Linked DNA regions of Homo sapiens: regions 1 and 2 are each linked to region 3. Evidence: fine-mapped expression QTL. A gene starts in region 3. Each other region holds a variant in brackets. All regions are shown on one strand. Distances are from middle to middle. Region 1 has its middle 56 kb from the start of SNX9. Region 2 has its middle 31 kb from the start of SNX9. Region 3 holds the start of SNX9 (sorting nexin 9).

The links. PIP is the estimated chance that this variant, and not a neighbour inherited with it, causes the effect.
Region 1: its variant is fine-mapped to the expression of SNX9 in whole blood (TOPMed, PIP 0.93).
Region 2: its variant is fine-mapped to the expression of SNX9 in whole blood (INTERVAL, PIP 0.98).

What each region holds. Positions count from the first base shown.
Region 1 is chr6:157,762,279-157,773,076 of GRCh38, forward strand. No RefSeq gene overlaps it. Among named protein-coding and RNA genes, the nearest start is that of SNX9, 56 kb to the right of the region's middle. RefSeq lists enhancers at 113-1,040, 542-1,741, 1,314-1,383, 2,274-2,323 and a silencer at 1,674-1,783. The variant T/A (reference allele first, on the strand shown) is at 5,355.
Region 2 is chr6:157,787,040-157,797,837 of GRCh38, forward strand. No RefSeq gene overlaps it. Among named protein-coding and RNA genes, the nearest start is that of SNX9, 31 kb to the right of the region's middle. The variant T/A (reference allele first, on the strand shown) is at 5,964.
Region 3 is chr6:157,817,485-157,828,282 of GRCh38, forward strand. It overlaps SNX9 (sorting nexin 9), which reads left to right and starts at 5,762. Exons shown (of 18, transcript NM_016224.5): 1 at 5,762-5,962. The coding sequence starts at 5,951. RefSeq lists a silencer at 5,571-5,890 and an enhancer at 6,541-6,590.

The DNA of each region.
Region 1 (10,798 bases), 55 kb before region 3:
GTGCAGTTCCTTCTATGAAGGAAGGTGGTAGAAAGCCTATGAATCCCACCAAAGCTTCCAAAGCAGATGGCCCTGTGGCCTATTTCTGGTTCATTGCTGTAGGGGAGGAAAGATAATTTTTTCTTCGGCTCTCATAAATTCTTAGTTGGAATGTACCCCTGTAACAAAAGACAGGTTAACAGGAGAAAAACAAAAAGAAGTTTAGTATCATGTATATTTAATATGCACATGGAACAAACAGAAGTTTAGTATCATGTGTATTTAATATGCACATGGAAGATACCAGGGAGAGATGCCTTTGAATTCCAGCTTAGACAGTATCTTCAACAAAGAACAGCTAATATTTAGAGAAGTGACAAGGAAAAGGAAAAGGAAAAGGACTCTGAAGAGTGTCCCGGAGCCCGCTGTGGCTAGGGAGGATGCAGTGGGGGTTGGGGGAAGTATTTTTTAAAATATTTTAAAAATAAAAGCAGAAAAGGATTTCGAGTCTCTAGGGGGCAGCAACTTGGGGAGAAGCAAACAACTGGCAGAGGAAGGCTGCTCGGTGAGGCTTGCCCATGTGGGTTCCTCCAGTACCATCTCCAGGCTGACAGGGTTTGAAATTGTCTTCCGTGGTTAACCTTTGTTCTCCCTGGTGGAAGGGGGACAGGACACCTTTTGTCTTTGTGCCCCGCTTTAGGCAAATAGAGCGAGGGCAGAGAGCTCTCCTGCATCTGCTTTTTAATGGCCTTCAGCTCAACAATCCTTATGCATATTTGGGGGTTGCATATTCTCCTCTTCCAAGCTACACAGATTATACGTCTCAATGTAAAACACGATCTTTTTCTTCATTACCTAGAAAGTGAGGGAAGTCACGCCCAGAGGGTGCTGATGTAGGCCTGGTGATGAGGGTATAGGTGGCCACCGTCCCAGGTGGGCTCCACCTCTGCCCTCTGTGATGTGGAGTAGGGGCTGGGGCTCCTTGGGTACAAGGCAGGGAAAAGGGGAGGGCGGCGGGGTTGAGGAAGCTGCTCCGGGCTTCCAGGCCAGACCATCCCAGAATGAAAGGAGTTTTCCCCATGGATCTCCAGGCCTTCTCCATGGAATTTAGACAGCTGAAGGCAGACACAGGTCCCTGCGGGGAAGTACCTGCTCCCTCTTCTAACAAGTGCAAAGCAAGCAGGGCAAGGCTCCGAAGGGAACAGCTGGAGCAGGCCCAACCCCAGGTGGCCCTGGGGTTCCGTGGTTGACCCGGAAGCAAGTCAGGCAGGGAGCCAGGAATGTGGTGACTCACATTAGCTATGTGGAGAGAGACCAGGGAGTGTCCCTTCCAGGTGGAACCCCTCCTCCTCCATGAGTCACCCGGCTCCATACACCTGCCTGATTCCAGCAGCCCAACACACCTGTGCCAACTAGCAGCTTATGTTTCTCATGTGCTTGCCTGTCTGTCCTATTGACGATTCCTCAAAACACCAAGGGGAGGTAGCATGAAATGTTATCCTGGAAAACCTTTGTGAGTTAGAAAACGTGGCCAAGTGCCCCCAGTTGATGACTGGCAAATCTAGAATCAGCCTCATGACGTTTCCAGTGTGTTACACAAACCATCCAGCCTTGCTGCTTCTCCAAATACTGTATCTATGAAGTATGCCAGACTCTCAGCAGAGAGGATTTCTACGGCAGTGGAAGAGAGCAAAGCAGGTGTCAAGGTTCATTAATCTCATCTTGGTCCCTTTCTGAAAACTGACACACTATATCCAGGTTGCTTTTTAAAGCTCTGTGTACGTATCATGCAAATGTATACTTGCTTTGTGTATGCATGTTTAGGACTATTTCTGATCCAGATGCTGTACTAAATTAAGCTAGTTTTAATGATGTTATTCTGGAGCTAACATAGTCTTCCGTGGTATTTCCCATGGCTGTGCTCTGTCTAGTATATTTCCAAGTCATTACCCGGCTCATGGTCATTGGCGTTCACATTGAAGTGGCCACAGATAGAGAATCACACAAGCTTCACATTGAATTCAGTCCATTAAGGCCTTTTCCTTGGTAAAACTGAGGGGGAAATATAAATTGAAGCAGCAGTAACCAGCAAATAGACCTTCTCCCAATCTACCCGAAACTGGCTCTCTGCCCTCAACCATGTTCAAAAGCCTTTGCTATAAATGTACAGAGGAAGTAAACTTTAACCACACTGGGGCTCTAAAAAATGACTCTGGTTTCTGTATGTGACTTTCATAAATCAGTTTAATTACGTCACATTTCCACCTCAATTGTATGATAACAAGGTCTGAATTGCCCAGTAGAAGGCAGAAAGAAAAAAAATCCGGATGTTTTTGTCATATGGAACCTTCCTACACAGTCTGTTTTTCCCCTGGAGCTGACGATGAATCACTTCTCAACACTGGCGGGGGCCATCACGTGGCCGGCATGGAGCTCGCCTGGAGGAGCGAGGTTGAGGCAAGCTCTGTGCAGGAATGTGGCTGCAGTGATGTGGCCTGACACTTCCTTAGGGAGTCCAAATGTGACTAAGGCTCTTTCTCAGTACTGTATGGAATGAATAACCACATGTGAGAAGATGTACAGCTCCTGCCTTGCATCACTGAGCTGGAAAATTTGCTGGTAGCACGTAACATCTCTTGCAAAGTATAATTACAGATCCCTGTGCTCTGAGGGTTTGCACGGAAATAATTCAACCTAAAATAGTAACAAAGGCTGAGTATAAACCTGTGATGTATTATTTTGGTGCAAAAGTAACTGCGGTTTTTACCATTACTTTTAATGGCAAAGATTGCAATTACTTTTGTGCCAACCTAATAGATTATCTAAAAAGGAACAGGAAGAACACCAAGAGTTAACAAGCCTATTAGGGTTAGAAAGAGACTCCTCTTGCTTAGACAATGGGCGTTACCCTCAGGGACACCGAGCCCTTCCACTCGGATCTGATCTCCTCCACAAAGAGTTAGATGGGAGATATTTATGGGCAAGTATTTGGGCATGGATATTCCCGCTCCCACCACATTGCAGAGGTGCATGGAGGCACACAGCTATGACTGTGGGGGCTTCGGGTGTTCATTTTGAAATATATTTGTTTTTTTTTGTTTGTTTGTTTGTTTTCTGAGACGGAGTCTCGCTCTGTCGCCCAGGCTGGAGTGCAGTGGCGCGATCTCGGCTCACTGCAAGCTCCGCCTCCCAGGTTCACGCCATTCTCCTGCCTCAGCCTCCCAAGTAGCTGGGACTACAGGCGCCCGCCACCACGCCTGGCTAATTTTTTGTATTTTTAGTAGAGACGGGGTTTCACCATGTTAGCCAGGATGGTCTCGATCTCCTGACCTCGTGATCCGCCCGCCTCGGCCTCCCAAAGTGCTGGGATTACAGGCGTAGGCCACCGCGCCCCGCCTGAAATGTATTTGTTTTGTTTTATCATTTGAGCGTAGTTTAGTAATTTTCCAGAGAGAGAGGACCTGGCATAGATTCAGCAGTGTCACCCTCAAGAGCCAAAATGTTCACATCTGCTAATGTTCCATCCTGACCCTCCTGCTGTAATATTTATTCACAGGGGAGCTTTGGAAACAAGTAGGGTATGAGTCAGGAAAGCCTCTCCGTGCAGACTCCTTTGCACCAAAAATCTTCTAAAAGGTCTTGGGTCCATGAGCATTGTTGTCTGGGAGCACGTTTCCCCACCAAATTATCCTTAAAAAAAATCTTTTAAAAACAGCTCATTGTCATCAAGACAATATTTACAGCACACACATATTTTCCAGAAGATTTTAATAAATAGTTGGTGAACTATCTTGTCACTAACTTAGTCCCTGCTTAACTTTGTCTGGGTGTGAGTATGATGCTTCATTTTAACTTGTTTTGAATTCAGACACCTGGACACAACAATGGACACCTACTGAGTCCTCCGTCCACTCACAATGATTCCCAGCTCTCTGGTAACTCTGGTCCCCCATTTCAAAGGGATGAACTTGTCACAGGTCACCTGCCTCCTGTCTATAATATTGTGGACCAGGATGGCGACCTTACCCAGACTTAGCCACTCACTGGCGCTTCCCCTGGAATATAAAATGGAACAAAGAAATCTTTCCTATTGCTGGACTCAAAATGTGTAACTTGGTGCTCCCCAGACCATGTTCCGTGCTCCCCACCTTGCACTGAGGTGCGTGGAAGTTGGCCTACAGCAACGAGAGACAGAGCCCTGAAAGCTTCTCAGACTTCAGTCCTGCCCTTCCACAAGCTCTGCGGAGGCCCAGTCCTGCTTCTACTGGACACTTCTCAGGTATTACATTTTTCTTGTTTGCTTAACTCTGGATGATTGTACCCCATAGAACCAAAAGATTCCTAACTACTATCTTGGAATCCCATCCTTCTGTGGGGCTCGGGATGCCAGCTGATTGGACAAGCCTTGTGGCTTCTCTCAGGCACTGACTCTGAGTTCTGTATGAGGGGCTTCTGGACACTTGGGTGTGAAATCTGGCCCATTGATTCTAAGGATGTGTAATCACTGAAACCTGTACCCCCAATAAATCTTTGTTTCCTCAACTGTAAAATGAGAGAAACTTTTTTGAAAATGTGAATATGATAAAGTGCAAAATGCTTGGACATTGGGGTTAGCCTTGGGATAAAGCCACGTTCAGGGTCTCAGTTTCCTCATTGGGTTGTTTTGAAAATTAGAAATATATATAGGTAAATGTACCCAGTATGTGACAAGTACTAAATGAAAGGTACTTTTATTGTTACTATTACTAATTACTCCTTCAACTGTTACTAGCGCTGCTTCTCCTCCTTGACCTAATGAATGTGAAAGCTCTTTGTCATCTATAAATGTCAGTTCCCCAATAAAGACATACTCAGAGGATCTGCCTTCAATATGAAGCTGCCTCTGACTGTCTCATCTTTGGTACTCAGCTGGAGGTATTTCGCTTGCTGGCACTTTAACTCCCCTGCTCTGAGCGGTTGAGCTAGCACAAGGGCCATACAGAAGTAGAAACAGACTTTCTTTTCTCTGTCTTTGAATAAGAAAAGATGAAGCAAAGCCATGATGGGAATGCTGTCAACGCTGGTGACAGTGAGGCCTGGACGCCTGTCCTCAGGCCACTTCACTGCTCCGAGTTTTCTCATCTGTAGAGCCAGGATGATGGCAGCACCTACCTCATGGGGTCATTAGAAAGACTGAGGGTAGTATGTGGAAAGTGGGGCCCGACACAAATTATTTTCATGGCGACCCTCTAGCAGCCATGAAGTCTGTCCCTGCATTATCGCGAACCTTCCATGTGTTTTTCCTCAATCAGCAATTTTCCTACTAGGTCATCATTTTGGGAAAGAGATAAATCAAACCTCCTTCCCTGAACATTTATTACTTTATTTGGGTTTTT[T/A]AGGAACTGAAATTTGCATTCAATGCAAGTTAAACGGAACAATTTTGACTGTTCAAATGTACCACAATCTCAGTTCATATGAAGATCCTGTTTTCTCTTTAATCACAAATCATTTTAAAACAAAAGTTAAAGTAATTTCATTCTAGAAAATTGTTTAAAAAGTGACATGTTGAAGATGAAAGTATGGCTTGGGTTCCCAATGTCAGGCCAGAATTGATTCCCAGAACTGCCTTGGTAAATGGTAATACTGTGAGGCCCTCGGAGGGTGCAATGGGGAGGTGCAGGGCATGTGACCTCAGAGTGGAGGCTCCTGGGGGGACAGCTGGGCCATGTCTGCTGCCTCACAGGCCATCAGGGAGTAGGGGGATCTACTCTTCCTGGTTTGTCCAGGACCATCCCAGTTTTAAAACAAGAGTCTCAGGCCCAGGTACTTCCTCAGTCCCAGGTGAACTGGGACAGTTGGCCACCCCAGTCTGACCTGTCTCATGTTCCTCTGACCCTTCGGTCTCACCATCCACGCTAACCCCCGCCTAACCTACTCCATAGACTTTTCTTAAATTTTGTTTTTCCTTCCTTTACCTACATGGCAGAAGACAAATATAACAGAAGGAAAGAAAGTGACTGGGGAGAGATAATTAAGTGGGGTTGGAAATGATTGTTTCTTACAGCCATGGCCTTGGAGTTGAAGGCCCGGCCCTCACTCTCCTCCCAGGTCAGGACCTCAGCAGCAGTCAACACCACCCTGGGGCTCAGCAGCACCCTGGGTTTAGCGCGATGGCTGTTTTGTCTTCTTACTTTTACATAAATGTTTTTAGAAGCAGATGAACTGGCACCGTTGACACCATACTTCACTTCCTCTTCATACCCTTTCTTCTGTGGGGTGTAGAGCAGGTCAGGAAAGATGTTTCCCCTTTCCAGCCAGAGGAAATACATTTGCAATTCAAATGAACCCTAACAGCAAATTGCCCTTGCCTGGTACTTTTTTTAACGTAAAATTTCCTGGGGACAAGTTGTTTCTCATGACCATCAAAGTACCATACGCATATTGTTGCAAACCAGAAAAACAGAGAAGAAAATTTTGAAACGCACATATCATCTCAGAAGTCACTTTTTAAAAACACAATTGGCCGGGCGCGGTGGCTCAAGCCTGTAATCCCAGCACTTTGGGAGGCTGAAGCAGGCGGATCACCTGAGGTCAAGAGTTTGAGACCAGCCTGGCCAACATGGGGAAACCCCGTCTCTACCAAAAATACAAAAATTAGCCTGCAGTGGTGGCAGGAGCCTGTAATCCCAGCTACTCGGGAGGCTGGAGCAGGAGAATCACTTGAACCTGGGAGGCAGAGGTTGCAGTGAGCTGAGATTGTACCACTGCACTCCAGCCTGGACGACAGAGCAAGACTCCGTTCCAAAAATAAATAAATAAATAAATAAATAAATAAATAAATAAATAAATACACACTTAATAGCAACACAAGCAGTGGACACTTTGGTGAGCAGTACTTGTTCAGATGAGCCATGCTGTCTTTCAGCAGAGCCACCAGCTCCAAGGATGCTCCTCGGGCCTCCCATGCAGCAACAGCAGCAGCAACAGCAGGCACTGCATTTCCCTCATTGCTAAGTGACAGCAGTTCTCTCTGTGTGTGACACTGAATTCACCAGAGAGCCTGGCATCGATCCGACCAACAATCAACAAATTTTTGCAGAGTTCTACTCTGATGCAGGCGCAGGCACCCCCATCTTCGTGGACAGGAAATACACTGAGCTGTACCAGCAGGAAGAGCACGCTGGGGCGTGGGCAGCCAGGGGATTTCTCCTGGTCTGCGGAGGAAGGGAAAGCTCCTGGAGGACAGGGGATGTTGTGCTGAAGTCAAGACCTGAAGGCTGAGTAAGCGTCAGCCAGGGGAAGACAGAGAGGAAGGGCGATTCAGGCAGAGGGGGTCACCTGTAAGGAGGCTCAGGGGCCAGGAGCATCCCTCCCGAGGGCAGCGTGGGAGAAAGCCACAGTAGACACACCAAGGCCGGAGAAGGCCTGGCTGGAGCTGAGGATGTCAGGGAAGGAAGGAAGGGACAGAAAGGGCCAGGTCTGGAGGCCTGTGTGGAGGATTTTTGGTGGAGGCCCATGTGGAGAGGCAGTGGAAGGGGAAGCACTGGGTGTGTTGTGGGGAGGGATCTAGGCCACACACCCAGCAGTGCTTGGAAATCGATGACAAATGCAGGTGAAAATGAGGTCCCAGATAACAGGTTGAAGAAGGAGAGCACCAGGGGTCTGAAAGCAGAACAGCAGCCCCCAGGGCATGGCTGGCTTCACGGGCAGGTGAGCTGAGCCAGCGCATGGTTGGGCTCAGTGCTTGAGTAAATGTTGTCACCATCTTGAAATGCTTAGTAATATTTGAACAAGAGGTCATGCAGTCTCATTTTGCACCAGGTCTGCAAATTATGTAGCTGATCCTGCCCAGGGCTGAACGTTTTCCACAGATCTATGCAGAATTTCGCACAGCTAATGGTACGTGGACTCCATCCAAGGCCTCCAGATTTTTTGTGGATACCATCAGGCAGGACAGGAGTGTGAGGGAGGCTCACAGCGCCCAGCTCAGGGCCGATGGTGTCTGTGAGTGTGTCAGGGATGGTGTGTGGATAAAGTCCATCAGAGCAGTGCACGCATGGAAGACTTCCTGCTCGCCAGCCATGGAGACAGGAGACTGAGGGCATTTCAATAACATGAGCTTTGAGTTGGCTGCCTGAGTAAAACAGGAATTTTCCTCACCCAAGTTTCATTTACTTTAATAAGTCAAACTAAAGAAATTCCACAAGTTCAAGCCAACACCAAATGGGTAAGCTATTTGCCAGAAAATACTTTTTAAAAATGATTTATTGGCCGGGTGCGGTGGCTCACGCTTGTAATCCCAGCACTTTGGGAGGCCAAGGCGGGCAGATCACGAGGTCAGGAGATCGAGACCACCCTGGCTAACACGGTGAAACCCCGTCTCTACTAAAAAAAAATAATAATAATACAAAAAATTAGCCAGACATGGTGGCAGGCGCCTTTAAGTCCCAGCTACTTGGGAGGCTGAGGCAGGAGAATGGCATGAACCTGGGAGGCAGAGCTTGCAGTGAGCCGAGATCGCGCCACTGTACTCCAGCCTGGGTGACAGAGCGAGACTCCTTCTCAAAAAAAAAAAAAAAGATTTATTATTTTATTTGGCTAAGAATTTCATAGGATGCCTGAGTCTCATGCTAAACAAAATTTGCACTGAAAATAAAATTATTGTTGTAAAGGTTTAAAAGACAATTTGTGAATATACCTATGCTTATATTTATTTCAAGGAGAAAAAAAGAGAGAAGGCTTTACCAAAACTTAAGATGTAACACAATAAGCTCATTATTCAGGCAACTGTCTATAAATTCACCAGGATTGCTATGCAAAATATGATAGGCCTGTAGGCTCTGAACCAAATAGTTATTAGTTCACTATGAAATAAGAAAATAAATGACTAAGAATAACTTAGTCATTTATGACTAAGGTATGGATTTATGACTGAGGTATGGGTCATTTATGACTGAGGTATGGATCATCGTCATGAATTTCTTTAGGTGTTTTATATTCACTTACAGCAGACAGTGTCTATAAAATACTAAAAATTATAAGAACAGGAAACTTGGCAAGCTCTTCCAGATATTTACAAGGCTAAATCTTCTGAAGCCTAGTAATACAGTTAATAGGAAGAGCTTTAAAGCCATAGAGTTTTAGGTTCAAACATCAGCTCCCTCTTCAGCAAGTTGCTTAACCCACGGGAACCTCAGTTTCCCCACACACAAATGGATGTAATATCTACTTTACATTTATAATATATATGTCGTAATTATTCAATAACTTGTATTTTTAAAAATAGTATAGCTGCTAACAGGCAGTTAAATGTTCAGAGATGGTAGGAACTGGTTTTGATTCTCAGAAGAGAAGAGGAATCGAGGTGGAAAGGATGGTGGAGAATGAGTCAATGAGATAGTGTCGCCCAAGATGCACGCAGGAGGAGCTGCCAGGGACATATCCAGAGTGGGCTGGCTGGTAGGCAATTTTTTTTTTTTTTAAGATGGAGTCTCACTCTGTCACCCAGGCTGGAGTACAGTGGCATCATCTCGGCTCACTGCAAACTCCGCCTCCCAGGCTCAAGCCATTCTCCTGCCTCACCCACTGGAGTAGCTGGGATTACAGGCACCCACCACCATTCCCAGCTAATTTTTGTATTTTTAGTAGAGAGAGGTTTCACCACGTTGGCCAGGCTGGTCTCGAACTCCTGACCTCAAGTGATCCGCCTGCTTTGGCCTCCCAAAGTTCTGGGATTACCGGCGTGAGGCACTGCACCCGGCCCGGCAGCCAAATTTTAAGAACCAGGATGCTGGCTGAAGGATGGGTTGGGGGGACTCAAAAGGGCAAAGAGGAAGAGTAGGGGTGCTGTCATGGTCATCTAGCTTGATTAGGGCTGGAACTAAGACAGTGGAGTGGAGGACAGAGAAAACATGAAAGCTATTTTAAAAATAGGATAAACAGCCTAGATGTGGAGTGTGAAGGAGAGGACAGGGATGGGTCAAGGATTTCTGGGGTGAAGGAGGCAGTGGGACTCCCAGCAGGTAGGACTGTGTCCCCCAAAAGATATGTTCAAGTCCTAATGCCCAGTACCTGTGACCTTATTTGAAAATAGGGCCGGCCTTTGCAGATATCATCGAATTAAGATGAAGTCTTGCTGGAATAGACCCCAAGTGGGCCCTAGGTCCAATGATTGGCATCCCTAGAAGAAAAGAAAATGGGGGCCAAACACAGGGATGAAGGCCAAGTGAAAAGGGAGGCAGAGAGTGGGGTGATGCATCCGCAGGCTAAGGACCAGCACAGCCCGCTGGCAGCGCCTGAAACAGACGAGGTGAGGACGAATCCTTCCCCAGAGCCTCTGGGGAGAGCATGGCCACAACGCCGCCTTGGTTTTGGACTTCCAGCCTTCAGAACTGGGGGAGAATACATTTCTGCTGTTTTAAAGCCACCTGCTTTGTGGTAGTTTGTTATGGCAGCCCAGGAAACTAGTCCAGGGACCTTCCCTGAGATAGGAAAATACAGAAGTGTGAGGTTAAGAAAGTGTGAGGTTAAGAAAACTAGGTTAAGGCACATTGAGCCCAAGTAAGGAGCCTCAATATGGGAAATCTTTGGGTGGAAACACGTGGAGGCCACTAGAGCGTGGAGCTTAGGAAATAATCTGGGCTGGAAATGGAGATCATGGGGGAATAAGGGGTGAGCTGGAGCTGGACACGGATAAGGCCACCCAGGGAGAATGGTGGGGAGAGACGAGAAAGCAGACGACGGGAGCTTCTCCCAACGGTTCTTGGTATTACAAACTCGACATCCACATCTGAGGGAAAGTGATGATGTCGTCACTAAGGCAATTCCAGCTGAGATACTG
Region 2 (10,798 bases), 30 kb before region 3:
ATCAGTACACTGAGGAAAGCAGATTGCCCACCCTGATGCGATTGAGCCTCATTCAGTTGAAGGTCTTACTAGAAAAAAAAGGCTGACCCTCCCCTGAGTAAGAGAATTCCTTCTGCCTGACTGCCTTGGAAATGGAACAACAATTTTTTTCCTGCCTTCAGATTCAAACTGAAACCATAGGCTCTTCCTGGGTCTCAAGTCTACCAGTCTTTGAACTGCAACTACACCATTGGCTCCTGGTTCTCTGGCCTTTGGACTCAAACTGGAGTTACGCCATCAGCTCTCCTGGGTCTCCAGCTTGCCAACTCACCCTGAGGATCTTGAGATTTAGCCTCTGTAATCACACAAGCCAATTCCTTATAATAACTCAATCTCTCTTTCTCTCTCTCTCTCTCTCCCCCCCACCCCTCTCTCTGTGTATATGTGTGTGTGTGTGTGTGTATTTGTGTGTATATGCATACACATATATAGTACGTATATATTTTTTCTGTCTCCTGGAGAACCCTGACCAATACACACTCCCAAGCAGCAGCAGCTCAGAAAAGCTCAGGGCATCATTATGTCATAATTTCCAACCCAAGACTGTATAGGTTACATCAACATTGGTCATTAATATCATCATTACGAATTCTGAGAATATGGGAAATATTCTATAATATTATAAATATATGATATAAATTAAATTTGTATAAATATTTGAATTCAAAAATAAAGTAGATTTCACTAATAGCTAATTATCATTTTTATAAATTACCAACTCCTTACATATTCTTAAGCTATAAATTCTGTAGCATAACTGAATGACCCGTGTTTTCATGAGACCTTAATATCCCCTGCAAATCCCAGCACAGTGCTGGATATAAGCAGTGTTCAATGAATCTTCATCAACTGGAATTGAGCCTTTTGTTTGAACATTACAAAGTTAGGAAACATAAACCAACTCTAATAATCAGAGCTAATATTATCGAATGCTTATTATCCAACAAGTACATACTCAGCACTTTGTGTGGCTATCTCAGTCTTCATAACAATCTTTGAATATTATTATTCCTACTATACAGATGAAGAAATTGATGATTAGCAAGGTTAAGTAACTTGTCCAAAGTTATATTGTTAGTAATAACAGAGAGAAGATACTAGAGATAAATCAGAAGCTCTTAATTTGGGGGTCTAGGGACACCCATATGTTGTCAATAAGCTTTCAAGGGTCTGAAAAACTATTTAAATATGGATATTAATTTTTTTCAAGGGAAAAAGCCTGGAGGTTCTTTTAGCAGTTTATGAACCTTAGAAGATGAAAGTCACTGTCCAGCTACAGGATCATAAATCATTGAGCTAAGGCATCAACAGTGAACTATGTCTGCATTGGCTTGTCTAGAAAGATTCCCATATTTCATTATTCTCATTCAAAATCTCTTATACTTGAAGCACAATTCTGAAGACGGTTAACTTCTTTTACAACTCAGAAAAATCAAAATTCTAAAAAGATGTTCTAGAACTAGTTTTCCCAGCACTTCTAGGTAGGGGAATGTTAGACCAAAACCCACTAAATATTATAGGGTGGTGGAATCATCCCTTATAATACAGATTTAAATAATCCTTCACTAAATTTTGCGACATAAAGTTTTGTCGAAAGGTTCACAACATACAACTGTGCTTTGTTTTCCTGGAAAAGCCCATTTTTCTGTAAATTAAGTTGTATGTTAAATGCTTTTAATTAGGTGGCATGATATAGTGGATGGAGGCTATAGGATTGGAATCAGAAATCCTGGGTTCAAATTCTCACTTGGGCATTTAATAGCTGTATCACTGTGGGCAATTTACTTACTTCTCTGGGTCTCAATTTCCTCATCCTCAAAATGGGGATAAGAACATTTACTTTATAGGCCAATTGTAAAGAATAAACAAAATAATTATGAAAAGGGCCTAATGATGTACCTCGTACAAAAGAGGCTCTCAAAAATTTTGTTTGGTGAAACCCCATCTCTACTAAAAATACAAAAAATTAGTGGGGCGTGGTGGCGGGCGCCTGTAGTCCCAGCTACCCGGGAGGCTGAGGTAGGAGAATGGCGTGAACCCAGGAGATGGAGCTTGCAGTGAGCCGAGATAGCGCCACTGCACTCTGGCCTGGGCCACAAAGCGAGACTCCGTCTCAAAAAAAAAAAAAAAAATTGTTTTTACTTAAGATTTGTCAACTATTTTCCAAAATAATCACCCCTAGTTCACCTTTTATATAAATTTATATATTGCCACAACAGGTTTAGAAGCAGTATATTGTGGAACAAGGGTCAGCAAACTTCTTCTGTAAAGGGATGGCTAGTCGATATTATAGATTCAGGAGCCATATGGTCTCTGTTAAAACACCCCAACTCTGCCATTACAGGGTGAAAGCAGCCATAGACAATCCATGAATGAATGTGCTGTGTTCCAATATAACTTTATTTACAAAAAGAGGCAGCAGGCTGGATTTGGCCATCCCGCTGTAGACGGCAAACTCTACTGTAGAAGAGAAGACTGTACAAACTTTGAGTTATACTGCCTGGATTCAAGTTCTGACTGCCATTTATCAGCTGTGTGACCTTAAGCAAGTTATGTAATATCATTGTGCTTCAGTTTCCTTATCCACAAAATAGGGATAAATAACAGTACTTCTTCATAGAGTTGTTGTATTAAATGAGTTAAGAAACCTAAAAGTCCTCAATAATCACAGAATAAGCGCTCAGTCTCAGTTATTATTTTAACTGAAAGCGAGTGGCAGCTTTTACATCGCTTAGGATTAAGTCCGAATGACAGAAACCCAAAGTAACAAAGGCTTGAACAAGAGAAGCGTACATTTGGCCCTCTCATCAGTTACGTCTGAGTGACCAGGGCAGCTCCACCATCCGCAGGGACCCAGGTTCCTTCTGTCTTGTTGCTTCACCAACTTCGACACGCGGTTTCCATTTCTGGGTCCACGCTGGTGTTCGCGTTCCAGCCATCAGGACCACTTTCCACACCGTCGCCAGGAAGGAGGAAGGCAGGGAGGACGGGTGCATCCACTCCCTCTAGAGATGCTGCACTCCCACGCCCTTGCCGCTTATTTACCATTGGCTAGAACCTAGTCACATGGCCACAGGGAGTGCAAGGGGAACTGGGAGATGTAGTCTTGTTCCGAGTTTTCCCTGGGGGAATTCCATTTCCTGTAAGGAGAAAAAACAGGTATCAAGGTAAAACCTGCAGTCTCTAACACAGCCTGACTTTCCAATACCCAGCACATTAAAATCAAAACCTTTAATTTAATAACAAGAGTAAAGAAAGGTAGCTGATGGGGGCACTTTGAAATAGGAAGAGCACCACAAAGAAGAGAAGATAGGGCAGCGCAGGTGATTTCCTCAAGATTTTGTTCATTTGTGGCCTGTTTGTTGTGAGATTGACAGGGAGGGTCTGGGGTACAAAAATCATATCCGACAGTCCTTATTTTCTTCCTCCATTTACAAAGGATTGAGAGACTGGCACACAACCCCACTCCCCCCACCCCCAGCCCTGTTTTCTGTATTCTCAACCTAACCAGGGCAGTAATAGATAAGGTAGGAGGTGGACTCGGTCCTTGGGAGGATTCAACTGGGAAGCTCTGGGATAACACAGGAGACCTGGCACTGCTTGTGAGCTCAGCTTTGACTCTATGACCAGGCCTTATCTCTGCAACCACAGCCCACCTCAGCCAATTGTCCTTGCATCCCACACAGCTTTGCCCTCCCTCTCATTCTGCTCTTGTGTTGTCTTCCAGAAGTTGGGTGTAGGGTTCTGGGAGGAAACTCCTTTGTCTTTCTGGTTCTCTGTTCTCTCCCTAAGTAGCAGGAAACAGAAGTAGCAGCAGCAGCTTTCAGAATTAGGTGCTTCAAAGGCTGAAACAGCTGAATCCATTAAAATCCTGTGGTCTGGCTCCTAACTGTTTCGATCATCATTGTTGGAACGGTTTGGGAACCCACTGGATGAGAACAAATTTCGTTGGAGTCACTCTGATGCATTTTAGGGCTGTAACTATGGGTTTTTTAGTAAGATTGTTTCTGGTGTTTCAGTTTTGTTTATAAACAGATTGTATCAGAAGGTTTTTGAGTGAGCATCTGTCAGATTCTTGCAGTTCTAGCTTATGCCATTGAATACTTTGACATCATGTATTTTTCACCTCCCAAACTGCATATGCAGGTTAAATTAATTCAGTGACTAAATTAATGATGATAGTCTTCTATTGCTATTGTCTATTCCATTCAGAAGAAAGTTTTGTAGTCTAGTACATACAATGGAAGTTATTTTTCCTAATAGCAAAGCAAAGAATAAACTGTCTCTTTCTTTGAAAGCCAATTAGTCCCCTCTGCAACTATCCAATCAGTCTCCTGTTTGAGTTGGCTGAAAATGCCTGAAATAACCATAAACCATAGCACCTAGGACAATGCCTGGTCCTTGGTAGGTTTTCAATAAATGTATCTTGAATAAATAAATGAGAATCATGATTTTGCTTATGAGTATTTTTGAAAAGCTGTGCCCATCCTCCTCAACAAATACTTCTCTAGCACTTGGCAATGTGACACCTTTCTTCTCCTTGGCACAAACTGCAGGTGTTACAACAAAAATGTGGCAGGCTGTTAAGTCAGTCCAGAGCAATTGGTAATTAGCCCACATCAGGGCAACACTTGATATTTCCAGCAGGACAAGCTCTTGCATTGCACGGGGGTAATGATTGTTTTTCTCTTACGCCTTTCTCAGCTTGGATTCATTACCTCATCAACAAGTTACTAATTATTAAAATTTCCAGTCAACATGAGGGATACCTATTGGTATGATTATGAAGGAATCATTTAACAAGAGGTTTAGAAAAAATAATCCAGCAGAAAGCTAACCCCATTGAAAACACTTGAACCCTGGAACATTTAATTAAGGTGATCTGGAAACACAAGAAAAGCAAAACTCCTTCATATTGTTGCTTGTCTCTTTGTTTTGGATTTCCGTGGGATCCAGTCCTTTTGAATTCAGTTATTTTACTTAATTAATTTATTTTTCTAATTTTACCCCTCCCTCCCTCCTTCCCTCCATCCCTTCCTTCCTTCCTCCCTCCCTGCCTTCCTTCCTTCCTTCTTTTTTTTTTGATACAGAGTCTCACTCTGTTGCCATGTGGAATGCAGTGGTGCCATCTAAGCTCACTGCAACCTCCGCCTCCCGGGTTCAAGCGATTCTCCTGCCTCCGCCTCCAAGTAGCTGGGACTACAGGCGCGCACCACCACACCCAGCTAATTTTTGTATTTCTAGTAGAGATGGCGTTTCACCATGTTGGCCAGGATGATCTCGATCTCTCGTCCTCGTGATCTGCCCGCCTTGGCCTCCCAAAGTGCTGGGATTACAGGCATGAGCCACTGTGCCCAGCCGATTTTTTATTTTTTAATTGACAAAAATATATATCTTTATCATGTACACTATGTTGTTTTACTACATGTATACAATGTAGAGTGGCTAAATGAAACTAACATGTGCACTACTTCACATACTTACCATTTTGGGGTGAAAACACAAAATCCACTCTCTTAGCAATTTTTGAAAATATATTTTTATTAACTAAAGGCACCATTTTCTACAATAGATCTCTTAAACTTAATCCTCCTGCCTAGCTGGATTTTGTATCCTTTGACCAACATTCTCCCCAGCTGGCCTCCCACCTCTCCCCCAGCCCCTGGTCCTTCATATTATTAAGAGCCCTTCAATGCTCAGTGTTTTAAAAGAGCATGTGTTAATTATTTAAAGTATTTAGTGTGTTTGTTTTGGCTTCAACCTTGTCCAGTGGATGCTCAGAACTTTTTCACTTCCAGCTATTGTTCATATATCCACCCCGTGCCAGCCTGATGATACCAGAATCACTGGGTTTTTCTGTTGTTGTTGTTGTTTTTGTTTTTGTTTTGAGACAGTCTTGTTCTGTTGCTCAGACTGAAGTACAG[T/A]GGCACAATCTCAGCTCACTGTAAGCTCCACCTCCCGGGTTCAAGCAATTCTCCTGCTTCAGCCTCCCTAGTAGCAGGGATTACAGGCATGTGCCAGCACACCCAGTCAGCTAATTTTTGTTTTTTGAGTAGAGACGGGGTTTCACCACGTTGGCCAGGCTGGTCTCAAACTCCTGACCTCAGATGATCCACCCGCCTCGGCCTCCCAAAGCGCTCGGATTACAGGCGTGAGCCCACGCACCCAGCCTTAGAATTACTTTTGATAAATACCAAGTAGGAGGCATTTTATTGGCTTCAAAATAGAAGTTAATGTCTTCACAGCTGAGGAGGTCCATTTCTGAAACCCAAGGACCTTGGCTTTGGAGACATTCATGCTATGCCAAAAATATTCCCCATCCCCCGCCAAGTTTTTATTCATTCCCTTTCATTGTTTTGTGTATGTACCAACTTCTTCCCTCCAACCAGATCTTTTTTGTTCCCTCCAACTAGTATCTTCTTTTAAGCATCTCATATTCCTGGTCTTTTAAAAAAAGACAATATATATATAAGCTAAATACTAATTTTCTAAAGTAATTCACTCAAAATATCTAATTAATAGGATGCTAGCGAATGCTGGTCTTTTACAAAAAGCTAAGTTCCTTAGCAAGCAGGACTTGGTCTTGCTCATGCTTGCACCCATCCTGCCTCAGCAACCCCAGCACCTTGCACAATTCTTCATGCACCTAGCAAGTCTGCAACAAATACCTATGAAATAAAAGAGGAGACATGACCATCAAGCAGTAGTTCCTATTTTCTTGTGTGGCTTATAACCTGATTTGAAAGTACTTACAAAAATATTTTGAGGGGTGGCCCCATCAGGTAAATGACCACATGGCTCCAAGGGGTCTGCTTTGAAAACAGCCTCATGTGAAACCCTAAGACCTGGTATATTTGTTGGGGGACAAAAATGGTTTTCTTATTTTGCAGACATTTGGCTTTATGAAATTTTAGAATATTAAAAGTATATCTTGTTGGTCAACTAGGCTAAGCTTTCTCGTGAAGAAGCTGATATGGTTTGGCTGTGTCCTCACCCAAATTTCATCTTGAATTGTAGCTCCCATAATCCCTATGTGTCATGGGAGGGACCCAGTGGGAGGTAATTGAGTCATAGGGGTGGGTTTTTCCCCTGCTGTTCTCATGATAGTGAATAAGTCTCACAAGACCTGATGGTTTTATAAAGGGCAGTTCCACTGCACACGCTCTCTTGCCTGCCACCATGTAAGACATGACTTTGCTCCTTCTTCGCCTTCTGCCATGATTGTGAGGCCTCCCCAGCCACGTGGAACTGTGAGTCTATTAAACCTCTTTTTCTTTATAAATTACCCTGTCTCAGGTATGTCTTTATTAGCAGCATGAAAACGGACTAACACAGAAGCTAAGGCTCAGACAACTTACAGAACTTATTCAAGTCATTAGTTCACAGTAAAGGCAGGGCTAAAGCCAAGTCTTCTTACTCCCTAAATCACTTGATATTAATGATATTTTCTTGAACTACTACATTGTTTTGTCCATAGAGACTGCTAAAAACGAACACACAACATCTTTATATTTTATTTATTTATTTTGACTAGGAAATTTTCTTGAAGAATTAGTAAGAGAAGTCTTATTTCTGATAGGCCATTACATCTAAAGATTTATAATAAAAGAGAGTTTCTTTTTCTGACCCAGATAAACTTAGCAAACATGAAATACATAAAACATAAAACTCTACTTATTCTCTAGCTTCCTATTAGCTAGATGTTTTAAATGACTTACTTTTAAAAATTAGTATTTAGCTTATATTTATATTGTCTTTTTTTAAAAGACCAGGAATATGAGATGCTTAAAAAAAAGAGACTAGATTTCCCCAGATGCAAGGTGAGAATATTGTCCTGCTCAAACTTCCTCCACCAAAAAAGGAAAAGATTTGGAAGAGCAGAATTTAAAAAAAAAAAAAAAGTAGAAAATTGAAAGGAAATAGATCAAGATGAATTTTAAAATAAAGTAAACTGATCAACAGAGACTAGAAACTGAACAATCATATGCAGTATGTGCACCTAGTTTAGGTCCCATCAAACCAAATATGAAAATGAAATATAAAAACACATCTTGAGGCGGGGCACGGTGGCTCATGCCTGTAATCCCAGCACTTTGGGAGGCCAAGGCGGGCGGATTGCTTGAGGTCAGGAGTTTGTGACCAGCCTGGTCAACATGGTGAAACCCCATCTCTACTAAAAATACAAAAATTAGCTAGGCATGGTGTAGTGTGCCTGTAGTCCCAGCTACTCGAGAAGCTTAGGCAAGAGAATGGCTTGAACCCAGGAGGCAGAGGTTGCAGTGAGCCAAGATTGCGCCACTGCACTCCAGCCTGGGCGACAGAGAGAGACTACATCTCAAAAATTTAAAACTTAAAAATTAAAACATATCTTAGGGATATTTTAGAAAACTTGAATGTGGATAGGGTATCAGATATTGTAAAAGAATTATGTTGTTAATTTTGTTAGGTATGATGATAGCATTATGATTATATAAGAAAATATCCTTAGGTTTTTGAGATGTACAGTGATGTATTTAAAGGTTAAGTGTCCTGATGTCTGGGGCTAGTTTTAAAATACTTCAGCAAAGGGGAACATAGATGAAACATGGTGAAATATTAACAATTGTAAAATTAAAGTGATAATTTTATAGTAATTCATTATATTATTCCCTCTGCTTTTACACATAAACTTGTTATAAACTTTCATAGGAATAATGCCAAAAGCACATTTGGGCAAAGGGAACAGTCTTCCCAATTTAACCTAAGTACAATTTCAATGTTGGAACAGCGTCTGGGGTGGTATAACACTAAAAATATCTTTGACGTAGAGGTGCAAAGCTAGCCAGTTACTGGACAAAAGTTATACTTCTTATCTTCCTGTAAGTAAAAAATTTTAAATTTAAAACTACGAACAAAATCAGTATTTTATTTAAAGAGGAAGTGTGACTTGACGAATTGGCATTTTAGGAATAAAGGAAGTCAGAATCTGAAGTCACTCCCAGGAAGGATCCACATGAAATTACAGCCAACGAGGTCTGTCAGGATGCCTTTAACCCATGGATTTAAGTGATCTTTTTTTTTTCTTAATTATTGTTCCTGTCTTCTTCAGTGCTTCCTTCAATATAAATATGCTCGCAATGCTGTTTCTTGGATAAATCTCACACATGTTATTTCCTTAAACTGCCAACGGAATGGTGTTTGGACTATTAGTAAGGAGTATAGCTTTTTTAAATTTATATTGGATCTGTCAGACCAGAGAAGAGAGGTGTGAGTCAGGACAGGCCAGGTTACGACGTACAAGTTAACCTTGAGAATCTCAGTGGCATTAAAGTTCATCTCTCACAAAAACTCTACTGTTGGTCAGCAAGGCAGTGGGGGAAGAGAGGGGAATAGACTGGGTGGGGAGCCAGGCTGCCAGAGGATCCATCTGGTGGCTGCGCCATCTGGAACTTGCCACAGCAGGACAAGAGAGACTGGGGCTTCTCGACAGTCACTTTTGCTCACTTTCCTTTGGCCAGAACTGGTCACAGGATCCCACCTAACTGCAAGGGGGCAAAGAAGTGTGGCCTCCTATATGTCAATGAAGGAAAAGAGAACCATGTTTCGGTGGGCACCCTGTTTACTTCATTGTCATTACATGCTGCGTAGATGTATTGATCATCCATCTATGCAAAAACTATTTGTTGAGTATCTATTACACACAGGCACTATTCTAGGTACTGATGACAATTCAGGGATTTAATTAAATGGCTGCATTCCATAAAGGCGAGTACACAATAAGCTCAGCTCTTTTCTTGCTCACCAGAATAAAATATAACCCCAAAGGACAGAGATAAAAATCTGTTTGCTGATATACACATAATACATATCTAGAAGGTATTATATATTATAAATACTTAAAAAAATTTTAATTACTATCAAAGATGATTATTGGAGTGTCCTAGCTGTGCTCCTACTGTGTAATCTCTGTAAGCCTCAGTTGCCTCCTTTGTAAAATGGATAAAGGGATAATATTATGTACCTTAGAGAATGGTTGCAAGAATTAAATGAGATGATGCATGTAAAGGCCCACAGTACCTGGCACACAGCAAGTGCTCTGTAAATGTAAAATACACAAGTAATTTCTAATTAAAGTTAAATAATTTAAAATAACACAAAAATTGAATTTAAATTGTTAGGAAGCATCCTTCCTTCCTGCCCCCCTGTCATCCATGTCTGGGAGCATAGTATAGAGTACTGGAAAGAAAAAAACTAGAATTAACCCTGTGGTGTTAGATTTGGAATTGGAAGTATCGGTATGAATTCAGTTTTTAATATACACAATAGTAATAATATAAAGCATATGCTTTGACATATGGAGATAAAGAAATGAAAATAAATGTAAATGTCTGATACATATGTGGTTGTATGTGTGTGTGTAGATAGATACATCTATAGCTCTATTTTTATTTAAATAATAGATAGATCGATTGTCTAACTCTTCCTCAGAGCAATGATACCCATTCACAATGTGCACACCTAGAGTCTAGACCTTGGTTTCTAAATATCATTCTTTACTAAAAGGATTCCAAGGTTCTTGGGGAAATGACTGATTCCAGGGTTGGGGCAGGGAAAATACAAGATGGGCCTGGAATATCTTTTGTGCCAGAAAATAGAGAAAGGCTCATTGAAGGACAGAAACATGTTAAAAGCTCATAGAAACCAGTTTGATGGGCCTCACACTGGACAAATCCAGGACAACTTGGCATCAAAATAAGTAACTATAGTAAGGGATGATAGT
Region 3 (10,798 bases):
ATTAGAGTTGCCTTCCATAAAGCAAGGATATGAGAGTGTGTCAGTGTGTGCTGGCATGTTATGTGGGGCTTTTAGCTTTAAAAGTAGCACTTGAGCCAGGCGTGGTGGCTCACGCCTGTAATTCCAGCATGTTGGGAGGTCGAGACCAGTGGATCACGAGGTCAGGAGTTTGAGACCAGCCTCGCCAAAGAGACCAGCCTGGCCAATATGGTGAAACCCCATCTGTACTAAAAATACAAAAATTAGCTGGGCATGGTGGCAGGCACTGTAATTCCAGCTACTTGGGAGGCTGAGGTCGGAGAATTGCTTGAACCCGGGAGGCAGAGGTTGCAGTGAGTCAAGATCGTGCCACTGCACTCCAGCCTGGGCAACAGAGGGAGACTCTGACTCTAAATAAATAAATAAATAAATAAATAGCACTTGAGCCCTGGAGGTCAAGGTTGCAGTGAGCTGTGATTGCATCACTGGTTTGTAGCCTGGGCAACAAAGTGAGACCCTGTCTCAAAAAAAAAAAAAAAAAAAAAAAGAACTCTCTATAGTTTGTGTATTAGTCAGGGTTCTCTAGAGGGGACAGAACTAATAGGATATATACACAAACACACACACACACACACACACATATATATATATACATATATATATGAGTTTTTTAAGTATTAACACACATGATCACAAGGTCGCACAATAGGCCACCTGCAAGCTGAGGAGCTAGGAGAGCCAGTCTGAGTCCCAAAACTGAAGAACTTGAAGTCTGATGTTCAAAGGCAGGAAGCATCCAACACAGGAGAAAGATGTAGGCTGGGAGGCTAGGCCAGTCTATTCTTTTCACGTTTTTCTGCCTGCTTTATATTCTAGCTGTGCTGGCAGCTGATTAGATGGTGTCCACCCAGATTAAGGGTGGGTCTGCCTTCCCCAACCCAGTGACTCAAATATTAATCTCCTTCGTCAACAGGCTCACAGACACACCCAGAATCAATACTTTGCATCTTTCGATCCAATCAAGTTGACACTCAGTTTTAACCATCACAGTTTGTAACTTGAGCAATGACACATGAACTAGCAAAATGTCCTATATCCACTGTTACTTCTTTGTGCCCAATCACTGAATGCCAGTACGTCTCCAAGGACTCACGCCAGCCTGTCCTTAACAGGTCAAAGAATTAAAACAATATCCTAGGGCAAAGTTTCATGAGACACCAGGGATCCTACAGGCTGGGACTTCATTTGGGAAGCCAACTGGTGAGCCAATCTTCTCTTGCTGCCCTCACCTCACAGCTCAGTCCTTCTGGGAGTCGGAACTACCCAAACTCAGCAAACAGTCTAGTATAGAACCTTGAGCAAACGGTTCCTGTTCCAGCCTAACACCGCCTGCTGCTGCCACCTCTGCCATCCATGCAGCCTCCCTAGCCTCCAGTCTCTCTCTGCCCATGCCAACTGTCCCTTCCTGGACTGCTCAGGTCCTAGCAGTCAGATTTCTGCTCAATTTCTAGTTCTGGACACTATGTCCCGTTACTGTTTACGGCTCTGTGTCTCCCAGACGATGGAGAAAGAAATGTGACTTAGTCAAAATGGAACAAAAATGAAAACCAACCAATCAGCTAACCAACTAAAACAAACATAATTTTAAAACCATACACTTTTCATACATACATTCAGCTAGTCTAATGCCAAGGGGAAACCTTATAGGAAAAAACCTCTCCTGCTTCTCTTTATTCCTATAAAGATTCTTCAGAGCACTTATAAAAGCACCTGGCACATTAGACATTTATTTGTAGTTTATTGACTTCCCCCACCCTCTACAGATTGTTAAGTTCTAAGAGAGCAGGGACTTTTGTCTCCCTCACCTGTAACAGCATCCAGTCCAAGGTGAGGACGTCATACGTTTATTAGGATTGGAATGGCACCAGCTGCACTCCTTTCCACGTTTATTTTCAAGGTCACCCCAAGGTTTTCTTTAACCTCATTAAATTCATGCCCTAAAGTGAGAGGAGGTATCCCCTTGTGCCAGACCCAGGCTGACTCTGTATTGTTACACATTATTCTCATCCTCCGATCCTTACATTAGGTGACCATCACACATTTTCACTCCGTTCCACATTAGTTCCCATAGTTGCACTTTCCCATGCTAGTTTCCCATTAGTTGACCAAGCATTTAGTTGGGCTCTGAGCTCTTAAAAACCAAAGGAGAATCTAATTTTGAATAAAAACACCTGGCCATACTGAACAAACGCAGGGAAGAGGTGGTGGTCATTATTTTCCTGTCCCCCCAGCTGTGTGGCTGGACGAAGCTTCCTGTGAATCCTAATCACTTTACCTCCTGTGGCATGATTCAAAAAAAAAAAAAAAAAAAGCAGCTAGAGTACAAAGCCTAAACAGAGTGGCTCTGTTGCTCTGCCTCCAGGTCTTTTTCTTTTGAAAGTGCAATCTAGTAATAACCAAACGCAGTCTGCAAATGCAAATCCAATTGCTTAACTAATTGTGTTCTCACCCCTGGAGTAATGGAAGTTCATGCTGTAGAAGAAAATCTGAACTTAGCATGGCCCAGGGTTCTGGGTTCTGGGTTCTAAAGGCAGGCCTGCGTAGAGAATCAACTCTAAGGAAGCTCGCTCAAAGGACGGAGGTGGACAGAAGAGAGATATGCATGGTTGATCAAGTGGGAGCAGAAGACAAACGCCACCACCGGGTGCAGTGGCTCACGACTGTAATCCCAGCACTTTGGGAGGCTGAGGCAGACGGATCACTTAGGATAAGGAGTTTGAGACCAGCCTGGCCAACGTGGCAAAACCCTGTCTCTACTAAAAATAAAAAATAAAAAATAAAAAAAAACTTAGCCAGGCATGGTGGCAGGTGCCCGTAATCCCAGCTACTGCGGAGGCTGAGGCAGGAGAATCACTTGAACCTGGGAGGCGGAGGCTGCAGTGAGCCGAGATTGGGCCACTGCACTCCAGCCTGGGTGACAGAACAAGACCCAGTCTCTCTCTCTATATACAAATATATTCTATGAAAGTGGGTCTCCTCTATAACATTCATGAAGTAATGTTGATTTTGACTGACGTATATAAAAATAAAACTCCTAAGTTTAGCAGTATTTACTGGAGATATACTACCCAATTCATTACTAAAAATGTGAAAAAGATTTTAGTTATGTTCAAGATCCCTTCGGTGTGGCTTATTGTGAAAGTGCACATGTTTATCTCTTTTTTTTTTTTTTTTTTTTTGAGTCGGAGTCTTGCCCAGGCTGGAGTGCAGTGGCTCGATCTCGGCCCACTGCAACCTCCGCCTTCCGGGTTCAAGTGATTCTCCTGCCTCAGCCTCCTGAGTAGCTGGGACTACAGGCGCGTGCCACCATGCCCAGCTAATTTTTGTATTTTTAGTAGAGACGGGGTTTCACCATGTTGGCCAGGATGGTTTCGATCTCTTCACCTCGTGACCCGCCCGCCGCAGCCTCCCAAAGTGCTGGGATTACAGGCGTGAGCCACAGCGCCCGGCCATGTTTATCTCTGTTTATGTACTTTTTCATTTGTTTTTCACAGTCTTGCTCTTTTTAAAACAACAACAACAACAAAAAACTTCTAGAAATGAGGTCTCACTATGTTGCCCAGGCTGGTGTTGAACACCTGGGCTTAAGCAATCCTTCCACCTTAGCCCTCCACCATTACTTCTAAAAAATAAAACCAGGGTTATGAAATTGTTCTGGTGGGAAAAGCTTGAAGTCTCTAGTCTTCTTGCTTTCATGGTGCTGGGTGCCCAGGATGACTATTTGCATAGGATTTGCCAGATGAGCATGTGGAAAGGCCTGTCTTCACAGGTGTGCCCCTAACTTTGCACCTTCCTATCAAGGGATGCATTGTTGAACGGCTGCAGAGAGAGCTGTACCCAGCCTTCACATTTAAAAGAATATGGAAAACTCATTACTTATGACATTGCCTGAGTTCAAATCCTGGCTTTTCCACATACTAGTGTGTGCTCTTAGCCAAGTTATTTCTTCCATTGTTTATTAAAATATAACTGCTGTTTTTAAATGAAGTCATATATACACATGGTCAAAAACTCTGACAACAGGATCTGGCGAATCTTTCTCAGAAATTTTCTAGGAATGTGTCACATATTTCCTTTTTTTTTTTTTTTTTACATAAATGTACCATACATAATGTTCTTTTTATCTTTCTTAACACCTCTTAGAATATTATCATTTTCTTACGGGCTTCCTAGTATTTTTGTTTGAATGGATGTATCTTATTTACTGAAACAGTCCTGTTAACAAACACATAGGTTGCTTTCTGGTTGGAGTTATTACAGAACAATCTTTGATGAACATCTTTGAACACTTGTACAAGTGTTTGACAGGATAAATTCCCAGGAGGGCTGCTGGGTCCAAGGCTACGGTCATTTTCGATTTGAATAAGTATTACCAAATGGGCAAGTTATTTAAGTGATCCCTGAGTCGCTCTTCTTTGTAAACAGTGGACAATAATGAGTTTCTCAAATGTTTCTTATAAGGATTAAATGAGATGGGGATGTGGAAGCCTAGTATACAGCAAGCAGGCCGTCAATGAATGTTGGCCTCCCAATATTTTTTTTTACGGAGAAAGACAACTATTTATGCATATTATGATGACTATAGCTTAACCATGAGCTCAACAAACACAAAAATTCACAGAAAATTCTGCAATACCGTATCTATTTTAAACCCCATTATTGAATATAACTAGTGAAATCTCAGGTCAAATAGAATGTATTTAAGAAGACACAAACTTGACATTAAACACCAGAGATTTACATTTGATAGTTGTCTCTTCTTACAAATATATCCCTCATAATAATAAAAAAGCACTCCACTAGTATGCCAATTAAGACACATCTTCCAGTCGTGTTTTGTCCTTGAGTGAAAAATCTTGCTGCTCAATTCAAGTCATTCGTTTATTCATAACACCCATATATATATCTCCAACTCTGGAAAGAAACACTGACAGAAAGATGGAAAATTTTAGAGACCTCGTTTCCACTTCAGAGAGCCTGTTGTCCCCCAAACCTCTCGGGCCCTCCGGTATTTTTAAGCTTATCAAGATTCCAGAATGAGGTTAACGGGGCGTCACAGAACGAAACCCCCCACCGTCCCGTCCCAGGGGCTTCAAGCCAGGACCCCGGCCTGAGGGAGCCTCCGGGCAGGAGGAAGAGGCCCAGGAAGCCATCGCTCCGCTCCTTCCCAGCTGTTTATGTGGTACTCAGGGTACTCGGCCAAGGGCACGGCGACCCCGCAACACCCCAGGCGTGGGGCAAAGACAGCGGGGTTGCGGGGCTCCTGTCTGCCCGGGGCGTCGAGAGTTCCTGCCGCCCCCTCCCGCCTCATGCACGGAAAGCGCCGAGCCACGGCGTGCGGCGCCGGCCGAGCGTGAACCGGAGTCGGGGTTCGGCTACCCCGAGCGGCTCTGTGGGCCGCGGATCGCTTCCCCTGGGGCGGCCACGCAGGGTTGCGGGCCATGGCCTGGGGCGCCCGTCCGGACCCCGCCGCTGCGCGGGACGCCGCTCCCAGCCTCGACCAAGGGCGCCCGGGGGCGGCGGCGGCGGCGGCGGCGGTGACTGCCCGGGGCGGCGGCGCGGCGCGGGGGCGGCCAGGAGGCGAGGAGGCCGGGCCGCGGCCGAGGGCCCAGGGCGCGCTTCCGGCGGGCGTCGCGCGCGCCGCGGTAAATGGGAGGCTCGGCCGACAGGGGCGGGGGCCGCGCAGCCGGGGACTTTCAGGAACTGCAGGAGCGTGCGGCGCGGGAGTAGCCGAGCGCCCAGCGGCTGGGCCTGAGCGTCGAGACTCGGGGCCGAGGCGGAGGAGCGGCCGCCGCGCCGGGGCCCAGCCGGAGCCGCCGCCCTCGCCCTTGCCTTTGCCTGCGCGGCTCAGAATCACCATCCGCGGCGCGGGAGACGAGCCGGCCGTCCCGGGCCGGGGGACCCGCCCGCCATGGCCACCAAGGTGAGGGGCGCGCGGCGCAGGCCGGGCCGGTCGCTCAGGCCCGGGGCGGCGCGGAGAGGGTCGGGGCCGGGGCCGCGGGGAGGGTCGGGGCCAGGGGTGGTCGAGGGGCCACTCCGCTTCCTCGGTGGAGTCCCCGGGCGGGTCCGCGGCCCAGCCAGTCCCTTCTGGGCATGGGTGCGGCGGGCAGTGCAGACAGACCACCAGGATCGCACCGGGGGACGGCGTCGGGTCTGGGCGCGGGTTGGGACCCCGGGCGCAGCGAGGTTTGGGAAGTTTGCACCTGAGCGTGGGCTGCGGCGGGCTCGCCGGGAGGGGCCGCGGGACGGAAACTTCCCGCAGCCCGGGGAGGCCCCCGAGGCGACTGGCGCTCTGTGGCGTCCGGCGTCCCCGCCGCCCCCACGTCCCCTCCCGCTGCCGCCTGGGGGACCCTCGCCCCCGCGGGGCGGGTGGGGGTCGAGACCTCGGCGGAGAGGACGCGGCGCTTCCCGTCCCGGCCTGCGGGGGCTCGCGGCCGGGGAGGGACCGAGGCTGGGACGCCCCGCGCCCCTTTGCCTTCGCTGCTGTTATTTTTTTCTTTTGTTTTGCTACCTTTTCATTGTGAATGGCATTGCCGGCATGAATAAAATATCAAGAGGGAAATGACTGTGCTTTCGATTACGTGTTTGCCTGAAAAAAGGCCCAGGCCCGAATTACGTGGTGGAACTTTGACTCCTGCTTCGTCATTGGCTAGGAGCGGTGGTTTGCTTGTTTTACGTTATTGTTTATGAAATTAGCAGTCACTCTTGGCTACCTGAATTTTCAAAAGCCACCCTCCCCCGCTCCTTTTCCTTGGGCGTTTTCAGTAGTTACTTGATGTAGAATAGCCACTGGGGAAGTCACGGTCACGGAAGGGAGGACCTGGGGGAGGAGGCTCTATACCTGAGCCATTAACTGATCTGTGATACACTGTGAGGAGTGGGTTTACTTTTGCACTTAGTTTTTGTAATGTCACTTTGTTAGCATCAGCACCCCTTTGTCTATTTGTTTTTGAGATCTCTGAGCTACTTTTGGGTTGCTAGAAACGTTATTTTTTATTTTTCGATAGGTGTTTGCTTTTTTTGTGGAGTGTTAAGGTAGAAAATGGTAAGAAATGTGAAATCTCTTTGAAAGATCAGCATTGCTTGACTTCGGTCTGCTAGATGTTGTGCTGTGGTAAATTTTGTGCTCTGAATCCATCTAGGTGCAGCGTTTGTAGAGAAATGGGGATTCTCCTCCAGGGAACCTGTTGCTGCTGTTACTGAAATAATTACCTTCTTGTTAATATATTATTGCCTGTGCTGTGCTTTGGTTTTATTAATGCGATAGAACTTGCCACCTTTTTAACGTATTAATTTTGTGTTGACCTTTTTAAAAATAAAACTTAGGCCAAGGATTTCTAAGGAAATTTGATTTTGAGGTTTGTTGCCAGACATTCCAGAAATTACCAGTTACACATCCTAGTACATGCTCATCTTGCAACCTTAAAAGCGGTTTATAGGCCGGGCGCGGTGGCTCACTCCCACCTGTAATTCCAGCACTTTGGGAGGCCGCGGTGGGTGGTTCACCTGAGGTCGGGAGCTCGAGACAAGCCTGGCCAATATGGTGAAACCCTGTCTCTACTAAAAATACAGAAATTAGCTGGGCGTGGTGGCGCGCGCCTGTAGCCCCAGCTGCTCTGGAGGCTGAGGCAGGAGAATCGCTTGAACCCGGGAGGCGGAGGTTGCAGTGATCCGAGATCGCGCCACTGCACTCCAGCCTGGGCGACAGAGCGAGACTCCGTTTGAAAAAAGAAAAGACGAGACTCCGTTTGAAAAAAGAGAAGACGGTTTATGACATAGAGATCTGTCTAGTGGTGGTCAGTGTGTTTTTACACTCTGGTCTACTGAGGCATGTTATCTGTACTGTCCTTTAAGTGGAATGCAGTTTAGCAACTAGTGCAGGTATATATAGTGAAATTTTTATTTCATAGTTAATCCTGAACTTAATTTTTTTCCAAAAAATCGAAAAGTGGTTCTTGTATATTAATCTCGAATTGCATGTGTCTTTGATTAAACACGAGCCTTAAAGCATGCGTAAGGACTTCCTACTTCGTTATCTACACCACTCCAAAGGCAAATTCCAGTAGTTCTGTTAGTTTCTTTCGGCTGCCTAATCACTGTTCCACATGGTGCTCATTTCCATGTTTACATTGTGACAAACCATTTCCATTTTAAGAAAAAGAAGAGCAACGAAGCAGTTATTAAAAGAAGACCCTTCCTTTGTTTTCTGACATGCTGGTGATTCTTGTGTCAAACCAAAGTCTCATTTTTTAATTGTTCCCAGAGAGTCAAGTTGGTGCTTTCCTCCCTTCCCCCATATGCACACTCCTTCCCCACACCTGAGTAGTTGTGTTTTTTCTTTGTCTTCTTCAAGGGGTGGGGAGAATGTGCTTAGTAGTAATGACTAACTTTTAATAAAAATGTAGGCTCCAGTGGCACTCAGGCTGTTGCTATAAGTATTAACTGATGAAAAGTAAATTCAGTATCTGGATATTTTAAGGGATGTCGATTTCCCTTTGAATTTATCAGAGACTTGGCTATAGTATCTTCAGATACAATTTTCTTGTTTGTTCTTACGTATTAAGGATGTGGTTATCACTGAACTATTGGGATTTTTAAAAACTCCACTACTATATTTTACAATAAAAAAGGAAATTATCTTTTAGAAGAAGAACTTTAGTTTGACAGTCCTTCACTGCTAAAGAAAGTTAATCAGGGTCGGGCGCCGTCTCACGCCTGTAATCCTAGCACTTTGGGAGGCCGAGGCGGGCGGATCACGAGGTCGGGAGATCGAGACCATCCTGGCTAACACGGTGAAACTCCATCTATACTAAAAATACAAAAAAAATTAGCTGGGCGTGGTGGCGGGCGCCTGTAGTCCCAGCTACTCGGGAGGCTGAGGCAGGAGAATAGCGTGAACCCGGGAGGCAGAACTTGCAGTGAGCCGATTTTGCGCCACTGCACTCCAGCCTGGGTGACAGAGTGAGACTCCATCTCAAGAAAAAAAAAAAAAAAAGGAAAGTTAATCAGTAACTGCACATTTTAAGGGGATTATCTATTTTCTATTTCTACTCCTTACTCAGTAGAGTGCTGCATTCAGTTTAAGTGTATACACTCACTCAGTGCAATCAAGTCTTGTTTTACAAATATTAATACAAAAGCTGCAGAGCATTTTAGTCTTGACCTTTATTGGAAGCCTCCAAAGGTTATATTTCGACCCAGCCAAAATATAACCTATTTATATTATAGGTTTTATATATATATGATATATAAATATATTATATTATATATATATATTATATTTTATATATAAATATATATTATATTTTATATATATATTATATTTTATATATAAATATATATTATAGTTTATATAATATATAAATATATATTATAGTTTATATAATATATAAAATATATTATAGTTTATATAATATATAAAATATATTATAGTTTATATAATATATACATATATATTATAGTTTATATAATATATACATATATATTATAGTTTATATAATATATACATATATATTATAGTTTATATAATATATAAACATATATTATAGTTTATATAATATATAAACATATATTATAGTTTATATAATATATACATATATATTATAGTTTATATAATATATACATATATATTATAGTTTATATAATATATAAACATATATTATAGTTTATATAATATATAAACATATATTATAGTTTATATAATATATAAACATATATTATAGTTTATATAATATATAAACATATATTATAGTTTATATAATATATAAACATATATTATAGTTTATATAATATATAAACATATATTATAGTTTATATAATATATAAACATATATTATAGTTTATATAATATATAAACATATATTATAGTTTATATAATATATAAACATATATTATAGTTTATATAATATATAAACATATATTATAGTTTATATAATATATAAACTTATAGTTTATATAATATATAAACTTATAGTTTATATAATATATAAACATATAGTTTATATAATATATAAACATATATTATATTATAGTTTATATAATATATAAATATATATTATATTATAGTTTATATATATATGAGATATATAAATATATAATACATTGTCAGTCATCCTGTTTTATTTAAAAGATCAAGTTCTGGAAAAGAAATGAAGAATTTTTTTTCAGTGTCTGTCAAAGGGGACATGAAGAAAATTGTTAGTGGAGGTTAATCCATATCTATATAATTTAGCTGTAATTTCTACGTCAAAGTTAACCTTCAGTCACTAATTTGGATCCTTTTGTGCTTACATAGTCACCTTTAGGCTAACTATAACAAGATTCTAGGAGTTCCTGATGCTTTTTTTTTTTTTTTAACTCTTCGGTTCCAATACCTAAAGTTATACACATGTGTTACACAGCTTGTCTGGTTAAATTAAGTGGGTATGGAATGTTAAAAATAATGGTAGGGAATAAATGAATTACTTAAGACTTGTTTATTCCATGCATAGATTAGTGAGAACAATTCAGAAGGCATACTTTGTAGCCCCTCCAGAGCAGAAACTTCTTTATTTGACGACTAGAATAGAAATATCTTTCTAACAGGTCTTAAGGATTAAAGTTGATTTTTATGGCTTTTAAAATGTTTGGAAAATGCTAACCATTTAACTTTGTATAACAGTAGTATTTTCTATGTGTCTTAAGTAGAGTGTGCAGTATTTGTATAGTCAAAGATAAGTTCTGTGACAGTAGAAAGATGAACAAGTCTCATTAAAGAAGG